Linked DNA regions of Homo sapiens: regions 1 and 2 are each reported to be linked to region 3. The links are microRNA targets in miRTarBase. Many come from high-throughput screens and were not tested one by one. Region 3 holds a microRNA gene; each other region holds the end of a gene's coding sequence. Distances are from middle to middle.
Evidence for each region. The annotated mature microRNA hsa-miR-660-3p reads ACCUCCUGUGUGCAUGGAUUA and lies in region 3 at 2,737-2,757, opposite strand. An mRNA with a match to its seed (bases 2 to 7 or 8) in the 3' UTR can be bound and repressed. Matches are read on the target gene's strand: a 7mer-m8 pairs with bases 2 to 8, a 7mer-A1 pairs with bases 2 to 7 and ends in A, and an 8mer does both.

Region 1: the mRNA of VSIG1 is a reported target of hsa-miR-660-3p. Seed matches in the 3' UTR shown: 7mer-m8 at 3,444-3,450.
Region 2: the mRNA of DPYSL5 is a reported target of hsa-miR-660-3p. Seed matches in the 3' UTR shown: 7mer-A1 at 1,671-1,677.

Annotation. Positions count from the first base shown.
Region 1 is chrX:108,076,890-108,081,963 of GRCh38, reverse strand. It overlaps VSIG1 (V-set and immunoglobulin domain containing 1), which reads right to left. Exons shown (of 7, transcript NM_182607.5): 7 at 2,780-4,916. The coding sequence ends at 4,583. Among named protein-coding and RNA genes, the nearest start is that of PSMD10, 12 kb to the left of the region's middle.
Region 2 is chr2:26,946,528-26,951,601 of GRCh38, forward strand. DPYSL5 (dihydropyrimidinase like 5) reads left to right here. Exons shown (of 13, transcript NM_020134.4): 13 at 383-3,824. The coding sequence ends at 468. LOC124905979 (a long non-coding RNA gene) reads right to left here. Exons shown (of 3, transcript XR_007086251.1): 3 at 3,988-4,054. Among named protein-coding and RNA genes, the nearest start is that of MAPRE3, 22 kb to the right of the region's middle. RefSeq lists an enhancer at 3,042-3,542.
Region 3 is chrX:50,010,975-50,016,048 of GRCh38, reverse strand. MIR660 (microRNA 660) reads right to left here and starts at 2,808; the gene lies at 2,712-2,808. The region is part of intron 3 of CLCN5 (chloride voltage-gated channel 5); the gene reads right to left. MIR502 (microRNA 502) reads right to left here and starts at 1,451; the gene lies at 1,366-1,451.

The sequences.
Region 1 (5,074 bases), 58 Mb from region 3:
GGGAAGAGGGGCTGGAGATTGAGTTAATAGTTGATCATACCTATGTGATGAAGCCTCCATAAAAATTCATAAACTACAGGGTTTGGTGAGCATCTAGGTTGGTGACACACCCACATGCCAGAAGAGTGGTACACCCCCACTCCATGGGAACAGAAGCTCCTATGTTCAGGACCCTTCTGGACCTCACCCTATGTACTTCTTCAGCTGGCCATTCATCTGTATCCTTTATAATGTCCTTTATAATAAACTGGTGGACAACAGTGTTTCCTTGAGTTCTATGAGCCATTACAGCAAATTATCAAACTTGAGGTTGCGGGAACCCCCAATTTGTACCCAAGTCTAACAGAAGTGTGGGTACACTGGGCACCCAATACTTGTGATGTGTCTGAAGTTGGGGGCAGTCTTGTCAGACCCAACCCTGGGTAGTGTCAGAATTGAATTAAATTGCAGGACACCCAGTCAGTGTCTGCAGAGAATTGGAGAATTACTTGGTGTGGAAACCCCACACATTTGCTTTCTGAAGTGTTGTGAGTAGTGGAACAGTTTTTCTTTATTGGCATATCTTTTTATGGTTTCCTGGAGCCCTCATTATCATCTCTGAATTATTTGTTTTGTTTTTAAACCAAAGTTTCAAAGACAAGTGGGAGTACTGAGTCTTTATCGATTAGTTTAAACCTTTTATGAGGCCCACTGATGTGTTTTCCAGCAGGTAGACATTGTAAAACAACTTTTTATTACTAAAGCTTGGGTTTGTTTCACTGAAATTAGTAGTTTGGTGCAGTTGAAAAGCATTGCCCTGAAATCCAGATGATGTGGATCTAGTTTTGACTTTGCGTAATCTCAGGCAGATTATTTTACTTCTCTGCACTCAGGGATTCTCCTCTAGGGGCTGGGTGGCAATATATAAGAGTGAACCAGCTTTTTAAAAGAACATTTACCCCTTCCTGTCTCCCCCACCAATAATTTAATTGTACATCATCTCCCACCTCCAGCTTCATCATTGTTAGGAGTGGCCCACTGTATGTGTTATAACTCAGGTGTGCTGGGGTTGAAAAAGTTTGAATACTATTTATTTCAGAGCACTCTTCTAGCTCTGATCAAAGTTGATCAAAACTGAGTTGCCCAGAGTAGATTGAATGGGTGGTAAACCACCTGGTTTGATTTGAGAGGGGCTGAGAAGTTTCCTTTTTTCAGAAATATATCTCCTCTGGATTGTTTAGACTCTTCAGATTAAGGATTATCTGTGCTTGAGTCCTCTTTAAAAGGTAAATACTCCAAAGAAGACTAACTCATTTATCAACCTAATGAGATCACTGAATGATGAAAGATCATGTTCACTGGACAAGAACAGGTTACAGAACAGCTACTTTAGGTCCTGCGCAATGAGTCTTGCCCGAGGGAAGAAGAACTGAGAGGGTCACTGAGCTAATGGGAGCATGAGAATCCTGGGTGTTTGGAAAATAAGATGCCACAAGGCCAGAAATGGCACTGAAAGGAGAGATCCAAAGGTACGAATTCAGATTAATCTCATGTGCTTCCTAACCTTGCCCATGTAGGGTTTCTGCCTGGGCAACATGTACTTCATATTTTTAAATCCAGATTTTTCTATTTATTCCTGTCAAATTCATTTTGTTGGTTTCAACTCCACTTTTGAGCTATCAAGATCATTCTGAATCGTGATTCTTTCTTATAGCCTAGTGGCCATTCCCCCTAGGAGCAAGTCATCCACAAATTTATTAAGTGTACTTTGTGTGTTTTGATCTAAGTAACTGTTTCTTCATCTTGGATTCAGGGAGTCTGTAACTCACCTGAAACTATATGTGACACTTTATGTGTATAAGCATCTTTCAGTGAAGATGAGTTTAGAGTTTTCAGCAGATTCTCAAGGTGTTCCATGACCTCAGAAAAAGGTTACAAGCCACTGATCCAACTATTCATCAGTATTTTGAACAGAACAGTGCTAATAAGGACAGAGCTCTATAAGACTACCAGTAGTGCTTTCTTTCCTGGACTGCACTGATCCATCAAAAATTTTGGGGTGTAATTGTTGACTATTACATGTCAGTCTCTTGCGATTTGCCTCTATAATAAAAATGGAAAGGAAAAATGAATTCCAGCTACTTGGGCATTCTGGTAATTGAGATGTTTACACTGTTGTTTACTTTTTAATCTCTAAATATTAGGTCATTCTTAAGACCTTCATTATTTTGCTTCTTGTGTCCATCAGACACCATATACCATACTATCATATTTAGTATGAATGAAATTATAAATGCATCAGAAATCCCTGACATTTTCTGAAAATGGACGCATCGAAGAAAATGCAGAAATAAACGCTTGCTATCTCTTCTCTCCATGGCTCTAGATAAGTGTAATGTTAATTTCCATTTTAACTCTCCTTAAAACCTACAGAGACTCTACCTCAATCTGTGTATGGTTATGATTTATATAGAAAGGAGTTTGCAGTTTAAGAAAATATTTTACATGAAAATCTGAAAGTGATAAATGAGAAACTCACTACTTTGTTTAAAAAGGATTCACCTTAGAAGGAAGTGAGACACAAAAAGTACATACTGTATCATCCCATATGTATGAGGGCCAAGAAAAGGCAAAGTTAACCTCTAGTGATGGAAAACAATGAGTGATTTCCTAGGTCCAGGGCAATGGTGGGATCGCACAAAGGGGCATGAAGAAACATTTTGGGCTGATGGAAATGTTTTCTCTCTAGATGGGTGTGGTGGTTTCATGGGTATGTGCTCTGTCAAAACTCATCAAATTGTACACTTTAAATGTCTGGTTTATTATACATAAATGCTATGTCAGAAAAAGTTGTTTATAAAAGGACTAGCCTTAGGAGTCACTAAAATGAGACATTATGAGTATTATTTATTGAGCCTTAAAGTAAGATTTAAATATGATTAATTCCACAAGTGAAAAGGTAAGTCTACCTGTAAGTTTCTTCAAGGTGAGATGTGGGTGAAATATGATCATGAGAAAGCTTTTCAACAGGGGAAGAAGAAGTGATATCAGTGCATTTTAGTAATATTAGCATTCATATAAGATTGGTATCGCTTTATTAATGTGGAATGTACAGGCAGTAAAACAGGTTATTTAATTAGTTGAAATTATCTAAAATAGATCTTAAGAGTTCACTTAGAACACTTTTCTGGACTGCCTTTCAAAGTAGATAACATCAGACACAGTGATAACATAATAACTCATTCAAAACTAAATTGTACATCACCTATGATATCAACATTTTGTATTCACTGAAGGAAATTATATTTGAAAGTGTTTGCCTGTACATTATTTGACAAAGTTGTGGGGATTTTTTGTTTTTTGTTTGTTTGTTTTCTGTTTTTGTTTTTGTTTTTCAGATGGAATCTCACTCTGTCACCCAGGTTGGAGTGCAGTGGCACAATCTCGGCTCACTGCAACCTCCACCTCCTGGGTTCAAGCGATTCTCCTGCCTCAGCCTCCCAAGTAGCTGGGATTACAGGCATGCACTACCACGCCCAGCTAATTTTTGTATTTTTAGTAGAGAAGGGGTTTCGCCATGTTGGCCAGGCTGGTCTCGAACTCCTGACCTCAGGTGATCCACCTGCCTCGGCCTCCCAAAGTGCTAGGGTTACAGGCAAGAAATTGTGTTATTTTTTAAATTTGCCATGCTCAGATATTGGATACCAGGGTGATTTCTTGGGAAATCTAATATGAGGAATGAAGCATTAATTATAAGACCTGATTTTAAATGCTACGTACCAATTAATGTATACCCTTTACATATTCTCCTCTATTGTATTTGGAGAAAATTTTCCAATCTATGAGATAATGCTGATGAATTATTTTCTTAGTGGTCAATATAAAAATGAATGAGGAACTATTCCTAGAAATAATATTGAATCTAATTAATGCCACCTTGTCATATGTGCATGTGGAACATAAGAGTAGCTAAAAAGAGGCCGGGCGCAGTGGCTCATGCCTGTAATCCCAGCATTTTGGGAGGCCAAGGTGGGCGGATCATGAGGTCAGGAGATGGAGACCATCCTGGCTAACAACGTGAAACCCCATCTCTACTAAAAATACAAAAAATTAGCCGGGCGTGGTGGCACGTGCCTGTAGTCCCAGCTACTCAGGAGGCTCAGGCAGGAGAATCGCTTGAACCCAGGGAGCGGAGGTTGCAGTGAGCCGAGATCGCACCACTACGATCACAGCCTGCGCGACGGAGCAAGACTCTGTCTAAAATAAAAAAAAAGAGTAGTTAAAAAGAGAGAAATAATATTTTCTGAAATAACAACACAGGTACTGTTGCAAAACTCAACTAAGTTAGAAATCACTTGCCCTGTCATTTGTTATGCTTACGTGTTAGTAAAATTGTTAGTATTCTATATTGGTAATACAGGAACCCTTGCTGATTTAGCTGTTATCTTGGCGTGTTTATTCTGGATTCATAGTAGGAATGAGCACCTTGTTAGAAGAAGGTTGGTCAAAATGGAAGGAGGAGGTGGAGGTTGGTTAGGTTATTTGAATTCCAAATGGCAGTAATGGGTTCCTTAATGATTAATGCTGTACTTAGGCCACCAGCCTATGCCTTAACCACTCCCTTTTCATCTTCACTTAAGGGCTCAACTACAACCCCAGGCTCTGACTCTGGCTCTGGCTCTGGCTCTGGCTCCAATTCCGACTGCGTTTCTGGCTCCAGCTCCAGCTCGATGTCAAGGTCAGGCACTGCCATAGGCTCTGATCCTGGGGCAGGCTCTGGGGCAGGCTCCTGAGTAGGCTTTGGCTCATAGTCTGGTTCTTGGATGGTATCAGGGCCAGTCTCATGAATGGAAGATGGTAGAGTTACTTCTAGTTGGGTAGCGTCTTCTCTTGGCATTGCTTCGCTTTCTCCCCTTGGGTTTATCTTTGTCATTGGCCTGCAAGAAAGAAGGCCCAGAAAAGAACAAGTTAGGGAGATGCTAACTTTGAAATTTCATGTGAAACCATATGTTCTGTAGCTTCAATGACCATAGGTCCCAGACTTCAGGAAATCTGTTATTTCTGATATTCTGACTCATTGTCAGGCCATAGGTCA
Region 2 (5,074 bases), not on the chromosome of region 3:
TACCCTCATTTTTCTCTCTCGCTTACTCACTGAGGCATATGTACAAAGGCCCATGTGCCAACAGGCTGGCCAATGACCTGCATGTACGAGAGACTGTATGCCTAGGCATGGGGCAGTGAAGTTGGCACAGTGGGCAGTTAATAATGTCGGCTCTGAATCAGGAAAACCTGGGTCCAAGTCCAGGCTCTGCCACTTACACACTGCAACATGGGGCAAGTCACTTAACTTCCCTGAGCCTCTGTCTCCTCATCTATAAGATGGGATGGAGTGGCTGTGAGGATTCACTCAGGCCATGCACACAGTGAGCCTCCAGGAGAGGGTGTCTGTGGTTTGTTAGCAGGCACAAGAGCCCGTCTCACCCTCTGTGCTTCCTTCCCTGCAGGCTCTCAGATCGATGACCATGTTCCAAAGCGAGCTTCAGCTCGGATCCTCGCTCCTCCCGGAGGCAGGTCGAGTGGCATTTGGTAAAGGCATTGCCAAGCCCCCCGAGTGAGGACGCACCGCCGCCACCAGCCCGCAACTCTCCAGCCGAAGCTGCAGGGGCAGGAGAGGCTGGGCTGGGTGGCACACCACCCGAGGGGGGCCCCGGGACCCACGGAGCCCTCCCTATGTCTGCAAAGTGATTCACTGTGCTTCGAGCCAACTCTAACAGGCACTTTGAGATGTGTTCCTCCTGCTGTAGTCCTTTCTGCCTTGGCCTCGGCGGGCTTTTCTGGGGCCCAGGAAGCCCACACTATGCACAGAGCCCAATGCATAGAGCCCTGGCCAGCCCTTCCTCTCACTCCTGCCTCCGCTGGCTTTGGGAAAGCCCAGACTTTAGTGCCCTGCCCCCTGGCTGACTGGCCAGTTGCCCAGAGCACTTTAGCAGATGTGGTTTCAAAGTAAAGGCCTCCTCCCCCACCCCTTAGGCCCCGTGGTGACATTTCCCAAGTCAGACAGATGTCAGCTTCCCAGCCATGCCCAGGACGTCCTATCTCCCCCAACCCACCTCTGGCCCTGTGTAGGGGCAGGGATGGGGGTGGCTGGGACTCCTGGTGCCCCTCGCCAGCTTCTCCTGCGCCCCGCCCACACCCTCGGGGGGTCACAGGCCCAGAAGGGTAGCTGGGCGGGGCTCGAGGCTGGTGCCAGGCGCGTGTAAATGGTTTTGTTTTGCACGTTTGGTTTGCGCAGTAGTTTGGTTTGACTTGTTTGTGCATCCTGTGAAAAATAACGGTGCTTGTGTCACTAGCATAGAATAGCGACAGGAATAGATGTGGTCCTTAGGAGACGCTGCACTTGACACCAACCAGACAGCACAGGGCAGGGGTGGTGGAGGGGGCTGGGCTCACAGGCCTCTCTTTTCCCCGCCTGCAGTCTTCTGGGCTGCGGGAGGCCCTGGCCCTTTCCCCTTCCCCTCCCCTCCTTGTCTAGTTTCCCACATTCCAAAAGGGGGCCTGGGATGCTAGCCCCAGAGATGCCAGCCCTTCAGGAAGCAGGTGTCCTTTCCCCTCTCTGCCCCTGATCACTCCCAGCACTCCCCTTGCCTTCCCCTGTCTTCACCTGCCACCACACACACACACACACACACACACACACACACACACGCACGGCTTCCTATAACTTCTTCCTGCTGGACAGAGACTCAGCGCTCCTCCTGTGTGACTGGCAAGAGGCCTCATGCCTGCTGAGAGAGGAGGAGTGGGAGAGGGGCTTGCCAGACACCAGAGAGGGAGACCCCAGGCCCACAGGACCTGGCTGTCGAACCCGCATTGCTGCTCAGGTGCCGTGATCTCCCGTGGTCGGCACCAGGCCCTTGCCAGCTCATGGCCTCATCTTCTCCCCTGTCCATCCAGGTGGGCCCTCCCTGCTTCTAAAGCCCCACAGAAGTTCCCATGGAAACACTAGAGGCCGGGTGTCTCCTTCCACCTCCAGTGATCTGGGAAGTGACCCAGCCGCCTGCCCTTGTTAAGCCTGGTCTGCCCCGTGGGAAGTGACTTCATGTTGCACATGTGATTTCAGCCCCCGAGGCTTGCGCGAGGCTTCTGGACCCTCGGTTAAAGGTCAGCCCCTGGCCGGGTGCGGTGGCTCACGCCTGTAATCCCAGCACTTTGGGAGGCCAAGGCGGGTGGATCATGGAGTCAGGAGATCGAGACCATCCTGGCTAACACGGTGAAACCCCGTCTCTACTAAAAATACAAAAATTACCCAGGCGTGGTGGCGGGCGCCTGTAGTCCCAGCTACTGAGGAGGCTGAGGCAGGAGAATAGCGTGAACCCGGGAGGCGGAGCTTGCAGTGAGCCAAGATCACGCCACTGCACTTCAGCCTGGACGACAGAGTGAGACTCCATCTCAAAAAACAGACAAACAAAAAAGTCAGCCCCTGCACATCTCTGTAGTGCTTTTCATGTATTCAAACCACTTCCGTATATGACCTCTCACTTAGTCCTCATGACAATGGAGCACTTATTATTCTTCCCATTTTACAGATGAGGAAACTAAGACCCAGAAAGTTCAGGTCCTCTGACCCCAGAAGTGTCTGTGATGACCCTCCCAACCTTGGCTATCTACCCCACCTGTGGAGAGGAGGTCTGGGGTGACATCTATTGTAGATCCCACCTGAGAGTTTAACCAATGAGAAGACTTACTTTCCTGGTAGGCAGCCTGCTTTGTTTTGCACAGGAAGATAGATTTTTTTTCTCATCTTTCTTATAAACAACCTCATGCACATTCTGTGTTTGAGCCAAGACTAGTCACCCATTGGGGGCTAACCGTGCAGTGTGAGCTGCGTCCACACCCTCACTTCTCCCTTCACTCCCCCTTTCCTCACTCAGGGGCTGAGAGGACAGAGGTGGTCAGCCGGGGAGCAGAGGTGGCGAAGGGGCTCATGGCAAGTGGCAGCCATTGGAACAGGGGTGAGGACCCAGGCCTGGGAAAGCCACCAGGGATGGGGGAAACCATGACGCCGCCTCCTGGTGCAGTGCACACCATCTCTATCCCTGTCAGCCCTCACTGGGTCATGGGCCTTGGGCAGATGTCAAAGAGCCCAGCAGCAGCGGTGGTGGCCAGCTGGGCAGAGCATCCTTGCTTGGGCTAGGAAAGCTTTACCTTCTCTGAGTGCCTCCGCCTGAGAGATGTGTGACCCGTGGCACCAGGGAACCACGTCTTGGAGTGGTCCACTGTAGGCCATGCGCTTCATCCACCCCCAGTCCCTACATAGGCCCTACCCTTGCCCGGGAGCTTCTAGATAGAAATCAGAAAGAGATTCAAGGAGCCAAATGAGCGGTCAGCCCCCACCATGCACTCCTTGCCCCGTGCAGAGCTCCAGCCAGCTTCGTCACCAGCCCCACTGGCTCCTGGTTGGAACGAAAGGGTCTCTGGTTGCACTGAATGCAGCTCTCAAACTGGTCTTGTACTTGCTGAATAAATACTGTTGTTCTTGCCTTAGCTGCTCTCTAGGTTTGTGGGGTTAAGTTGCCAGAAAATTGTGCTACTGTGTGTGCGTGTGCGTGCGTGTGTGTAGTGCTAGGAGTCCACAGTAGGTCTCTGTCAAGCCGATGTCGTGATGAGGGCTTTTCTGATACTGACCCAGAAGCCACAGAACCACAAGGAAACCCAAACCCCCTCCAGCTGCTGAGGCGCAGGCACAGCCTGGGGTCGGATGGAGCCTCCAGCACCCCAGCACCCAGGTGACTTCCCCACTCCCCTGTAAATGTCATGGTGCTAAGACTGTGTCAACCCCAAGACGACACATGGTCCTGTGCTTTGGCCACCGTTTGAGGCAAAAACTAAACAGCCCGACACGTTGTGTTCTGGTGCAGGTTTGTATTAAACTGTAGCTACTTCTCACTTGGACTCTGTTGTGTTTCTTCAAAGAGGAGGGAGTTTGGCAGAGATCTCTTCTACGGTGGCTGGGCAAGGCTTCAGTTGCTAAGAAAAGGCAGCTTTGATCTGTCTCTCCTATTGGGTGGCAGCTCACTGGGAGGCTTGTGCAGAGACTGGATTTTTTTTTTTTTTTAATTCTGAGAGACAGGAGCCCCAGTGGTGCCAGATTTCCAGGGACAAGGTTGCCAAATTATCTGAAATAATTAGGAGGAAGAATTAGATGCAAAAGGGAAAAAAACTAGACTCACTCCATCTACCTATAGTCGCGTATTCTCTTGGCTACCATTTTGGAAGCCCATAGCCACCTCTCCACTCGGCAGAACGTTTGGCTGATGGAACGATGGCCTCATAAAAAAAAAAAATCACAAGACAAAGCGCTGTCCCAAGGCCAATATGCCTTTGAAGGACCTTCCAGCTGCTCTCCGGCTGTCTAGAACCCCGCTTTTGGAGTTGGCCCTCTGTAGTCTCAACCCCATCCATTGCATTGAGACCCCTCTACCTTCCCTCTAGAGCTCAGTCAGATGTTAGGAGGATTATCTGATTAAACTCTTTCACACTAAAGGGTAAAACTGTGGCTTCTAAGGCCGGGTGCTGTGGCTCATGCCTGTGATCCCAGCACTTTGGGAGGCCGAAGCGGGTGGATCACCTAAGGTCAGGAGTTTCAGACCAGCCTGACCAACATGGAGAAACCCCGTCTCTACTAAAAAAAATACAAAATTAGCCAGGTGTGGTGGTGCATGCCTGTAATCCCAGGTACTCAGGAGGCTGAGGCAGGAGAATCGCTTGAACCCGGGAGGCGGAGGTTGCAGTGAGCCAAGATCGCGCCATTACACTCCAGCCTGGGCAACAAGAGTGAAGCTCTGTCTCAAAAAAAATAAAAATAAAAATAAACTGTGGCTTCTAGTACTATGTGGTCACTGTACTTATTTCTTAACATTAAAATTCGAAGGTTGAGATGGATTTGCCAGCTTGAGATGGATGCCGAGTCCCTGCAATGTATTGGGCCAAAGTGTCTGTTACCCTGTTTTCCCACAACAGGAGAGCACACCAGAATTGGGTTAACTGCCAAAAATCCATTGGGTTTGGATGAAAAAAATAATATGACCACACATTTGGCACAAGGCGTCTATCAGGCAGTCTACAGGGAAAAAATAAAAGATACCCAGGAAGACATAGGGTGCCTTTTTATGTATGTAGTTGTAGAAAAATCAAAG
Region 3 (5,074 bases):
TGATAAAATAAGACTAAGGCTGAGCAGTAACCAAAATGAGATTTTAGAGTATACAAAAGATAAGGAGCACATATTAAATAACCTGAATCTTTACTGCAGGTTAGATTGGGAGAATCTGGGAGAGAAGAAGGACCAAGGATCAGAATCTATAAGTCCCAAATGTTTAAGAACTTGAGGACTGAAATGGAGTGTGTGTCTCTTTCTGTCTCTGTCACCACTATTTATAATACTGTATTGCTACGCTGACCTGAACACTATAAATTTGCAATGGGCAATGAGCAAAAATGATAAGATGGGGAGGAATGAATAGATCAGCTTAGCTAAGAAGAGAGTAACAACTGAAGAATACTGCTGAGGTCACAGTAGAAAGCACTCAGGCTCAGGCGCTAAGGATGGGAGGAGGGGAGTGAATCAGATCATGGGCACCTGTACTCCCTAGGTGAGAGAGAGAGAGAGATGGAGAGACGGACAGAGAGAGCGATAGACTGAAACAGAGACATGTATAGTCCATCTCTATTTGACTAAAGTAAGGTAATATAAAGATATAGGCTGTTCTCATTTCCATATTGTGTGGGGTGCATACAAGATCAGCAATAAGAAGGGTCCCTTGCTCTTCACCCCCTCTAATTCAAGAAGAGTCTGTAATAGACATCTAAAGGCAGCTCACAGTTCTACTCAGGATGTCCTGGAAGATAAAGGGCAGCTTATAAGCTCAAACTCCTATACATTCTGTAAGTGTAAATCTTCATGAATGTGTGCATCTCCCTGTCCTCAGAGGGGACAGAGTGGGGGGAATAGGAAGACTCTCTCTTTGGCCCCCATCATTTGTGCCCGTCTGAATTTTTCTTCTAAAGCTGCCCATCAGAGAGCACATCCAGTGATTTTGACTCTCGTTTGTCACTGCATCCTTAACACTAAAAAGAGTATCTGTCACACTCTAGAAACTCAAGATATAGGAAGGCAAGAAAAGAGACATATATGCACTCAGTCCATATATATACATATAGGTAGGCAAGGCTCCATCTCATTGAATCCTTGGCTTAATACTTGAGACAGCACTCACATCTAGGTTGGAAGGAAGTGAGGGAGCAAATCAGAAGGCTCTGGTTCCCGCCCACCACCCTGTGTGTGGACAGCAGGTGGGGAACACAGAGAAAGCTCACTGTCTCACTCTGGATACCTGCATACATGGACATTATTTAATAAGGACATTTATTCTAATACACAGACAAGCCCACCAGAGCACCTGAAGTCCCTAACTATTCTGTTCTGTGCTTCCCCAACACACACCCATCACTCAAAAACTATGACAGGGGAGGGTGGGAGGGGTGATGTCTAGGCTCTCTGTCCTTCTTGGTACAGTTGAGCTCCCCCTCTCTGAATCCTTGCCCAGGTGCATTGCATTGAGCCAGCACTAGCACCCAGATAGCAAGGATTAGAGAGGGGGAGCAGGGCAGAAGGCTTGGGCACCTGCCGTGCTCGAAGCAGAGAAGGTTCTCTGTTACACAGCTCTGTGTGAGAACAGGAATGAGAGTCTTGCATTGTGTATATGTTGGGAGAGGGTGTCAATAAGAAGTCCCATGTTGTGGCCCACACTAACTCAGCACGTGCAGGAATATTAGGTGACAAAAAGTCAAGTCTCCTACACATATTCTTTGAGGCAAGAACCAAGTCCATCTTGTGTGATACCATATGCCCACTGCCCTGGCAGCACAGCGTTAGCATGTACTAAGTGCTCAATACTTGTGAAAGGGAGGTAGAGGGGAAGGAGAGGGAGGAGGAAGTGTGACTCACAGGCACTTTGTCTGTCTATGGGCAGAAAAAGGCCCCTCTGAGAGTCCTGGAATAGGTGCTGCACTGAGACAGCATGCACATTTAGGTGGCAAGGATACAAGGGGAAGCAGAGCAGCAGGCTCAGGATGTGCACACCACATATATTTGCACAGGTACCCATGTCTGTGGGAGGGAATAAAGAAAAGCCTGATTTCTGGCACCCTGAGCCCATGTATTCACAGGAAGTTGGATGACATGAGGATGCTTATTCTCCATGAGCCTGCTAGACAGTAAGGTCGGCATCTCTGACAGGTTAGTTTACTGTGGCATTCCCAAACAGCAGGAATTCAGTAAATTTGTTAAAGGGATGAATAAATGAATGGACCAAAAACATGCACACACAAATGACTGACTGAAAGAATGAACAAAGGAAAGAGAAGGGATGGACAGGCTCTGTCCTACACATAGGCAAGGCTCACAAGCTGGTATCCTTGCACAAGCCCATTGCACTGCTAAGACAGCACTTGTGCCTAGGCTGCAAGGCTAGGAGAGGGCAAGCAAAAATCAAAGTCCAGGCACCTGCACACCAGGCATGCATCTGAGTGTGTGTGGCAAGGAAACTTGCAGGCAAGTTTAGATAATAAGGCTCCTTCCTTTCAGCTTTGTACAGAAATGTTTCTACACTTACACATGTGTGTGTGCACATGCATGCACAATGTGAGCATGTGTATTCATAAGAGAATGAGAAGGCTCAATTCCTGACACACCTGTGTCTGTTGCCTAGGCCTGGGGAAGTCTAGGCACCTAATACCTCCACTAGATAGGAAGTCCCGGAGAGAGACACTGTCCATTATTTAGCAGGGTACTCCCAGCACAGCTCATGGCACATCAAAAGTGCGCAATAAACACGGGCTACTTGGATTGTTCAGCAGAAGATTCACGATGACAAGGCTCACCCTCCTGTAATCCATGCACACAGGAGGTGTTTTGAGAATTCACAACTCCGATATGCAATGGGTATGGGAGAAGGAGCAGTTCATTCTTCTGCACATGGGAGGGGGGTGGGGGAGGAGAGAGAAAGAAAGACAGAAAGAGAGAAAGAGAGAGAGAGGAGAGAGATTGATTGATTGATTGAGAGAGAGACAGATTGAGATTAAAGTGTCAGGTGCACGCCTGGAGAAGCAGTGCCAAGTCTATTCCCTAATAAAGTACTTGTTGTGTGTTCACTTAGCCTCATGTGCTCACTGAATGTGTGGTTATGGAGGAGGTGGAGACAGTAATGAAATGATGGCTTCCCTGCCACAGTCTGCATGGACTCGGCATTGGGAACGTACATGAGCAATGCAGGAGCTCATTCTCTTCCACCCTTCACCTGACTAGCTTATCACTGCCCCTAGCTAGCACTTATACTAAATCAGTGATTCTCAAACTTAAGTGAGCATCAGAATCAGTTGAGAGCCTTGGTAAAGTACAGATTTCCATGGTTTATGGTGTAGTAGGTCAGGGATGAGCCCAAGAATTGGCATTTTGAACAAGCTCCTAGGTGATACAGATGCTGCTGGCCCAGGGACCACACTGAGAACCACTGCTCTATACATAACTTAAAGAAATGAAATAATGGGACATAGAGGGGTGATGCAAAGACTCTACACTTTTAAACATGGATGAGATTCCCTCTCTGAATTTTTGTACAAGGCAATGGACTGGAATAGCATTTGTACCCAACTACGAAGAATGAAAGAGAGGGACAACCTGAATAGAAGGCTCGAGCATCTTCAAATCCATTGTGTTTGTGTGTATGTACAAAAGAAACAGCACTCTCTGGCTCACAGGTGATTTTCCTATGACCATACAAAGGTGAAGTGTCTTTTCTTCATATGCATGTGTGAGATGACTGACAAGTAGGGCCACTTTCCTTCAAGCTCTGGTGGCATAAGCAGCAAGTAGAAAGCCTATTGCCTTGCACACCAGACATGAGTGAGAAGATGCTGCTAATGACACTCATTATCCTATGCACACTGTGGCTGCAGCTCTGTGTAAGGGGAGACACACCTTTTGTAGTTCTCTAGCTGAGCACTGTTGGGGGGTTGGAGAGGGGATGATGGGAAGACTCACTCTCTGCTACATACGTATGCATGAACAATGTGGGCAACGGAAGTTCCTTCTCTTAAACATGCTCACTAGGCATGTGAGTATGAGTTCTGTGTCTTTCTTGACCACCCTGTCTCTCCATGTCTGGTGCATGACAGGAGCGCCACCCCTGCTTGTTAAAGGTGGGAATGAATGAAGGATGGGGATTATAAACAGGTGTTCTTCGCTCTATGCAGAAAAGGCTCAGCCGTGGAATGCTTGCCTGGGTGCACCGCATTGACACAGCACTTGCATCCAGGTACCAGGATTCAAGAGGGGGAACAGGACTGAAGGCCCAAGCAGCCATACAGAGTATGTGTGTGTGCACGTGTGCGTGTGTGCACATGTGCTCACATGGGTTTACAGGGAAGGCTCACCGCATATAGTGTGTTCATCTGTGACTGTACAGAAAAGTAATGAAAGGATCTCTCCTATACAGAGCAGCAAGAAGGAAAGTAGCAGTAAGAAGACTTCCCTCATTTAATCCCCATCTATAAGGGAGTTAAGGAAGCTCACTGGCTTGCACGCTGAGAATGGGAGAGAGGAGAGCACAACAGGCTCCATCTCCTACCCTTTCAGTAGGTGGGGTTCTCTGCATGCAGGGCCATGTCTCTGAGTGTGTCTGGTGTACAAGGATTGGGGACATTTGAGAATTTCACTTGAGCAGAACCTGCACATGCTTGTGCATGCAGACTGGGTAACAAGGAACATATAGATCTACTTCATTCTTTTGAACAGTGGCCTATTCATCCACAACATTTATGTATAGTGTGTTTATGAGTCCCTACCAGAATGTAGGGTAGCAACCTGTCCATTTTGATCCCTGCTATATCCTTGGTGATGAACATAATACCTGCTGTCTAATAGACACTTGAGTATCTGTGGAAGGAAGAGGAGGGAGAGTTGATGTGCAAAAGCTCTGTCCTTTTAAGTGTAGACAAGGCTTCTTCCCTTGGAATTCTTGAAAAGGGACAGTGAGTCAAGGCAGTACTGGCACACAGGCTGAAAGAATGTGAGTGATGCACCAGGTCAGAGGGACCACTCTGTGAGGACATGTCTCTGTGGATGTAACCAAGTCAGGCCCTTTCTCTTGCACACAGCGTATTTATGTGTGATTGTACTGAGGTTTAGTAGATTCTCCAACATGTATCTGTACCCCACCCACCCTGTA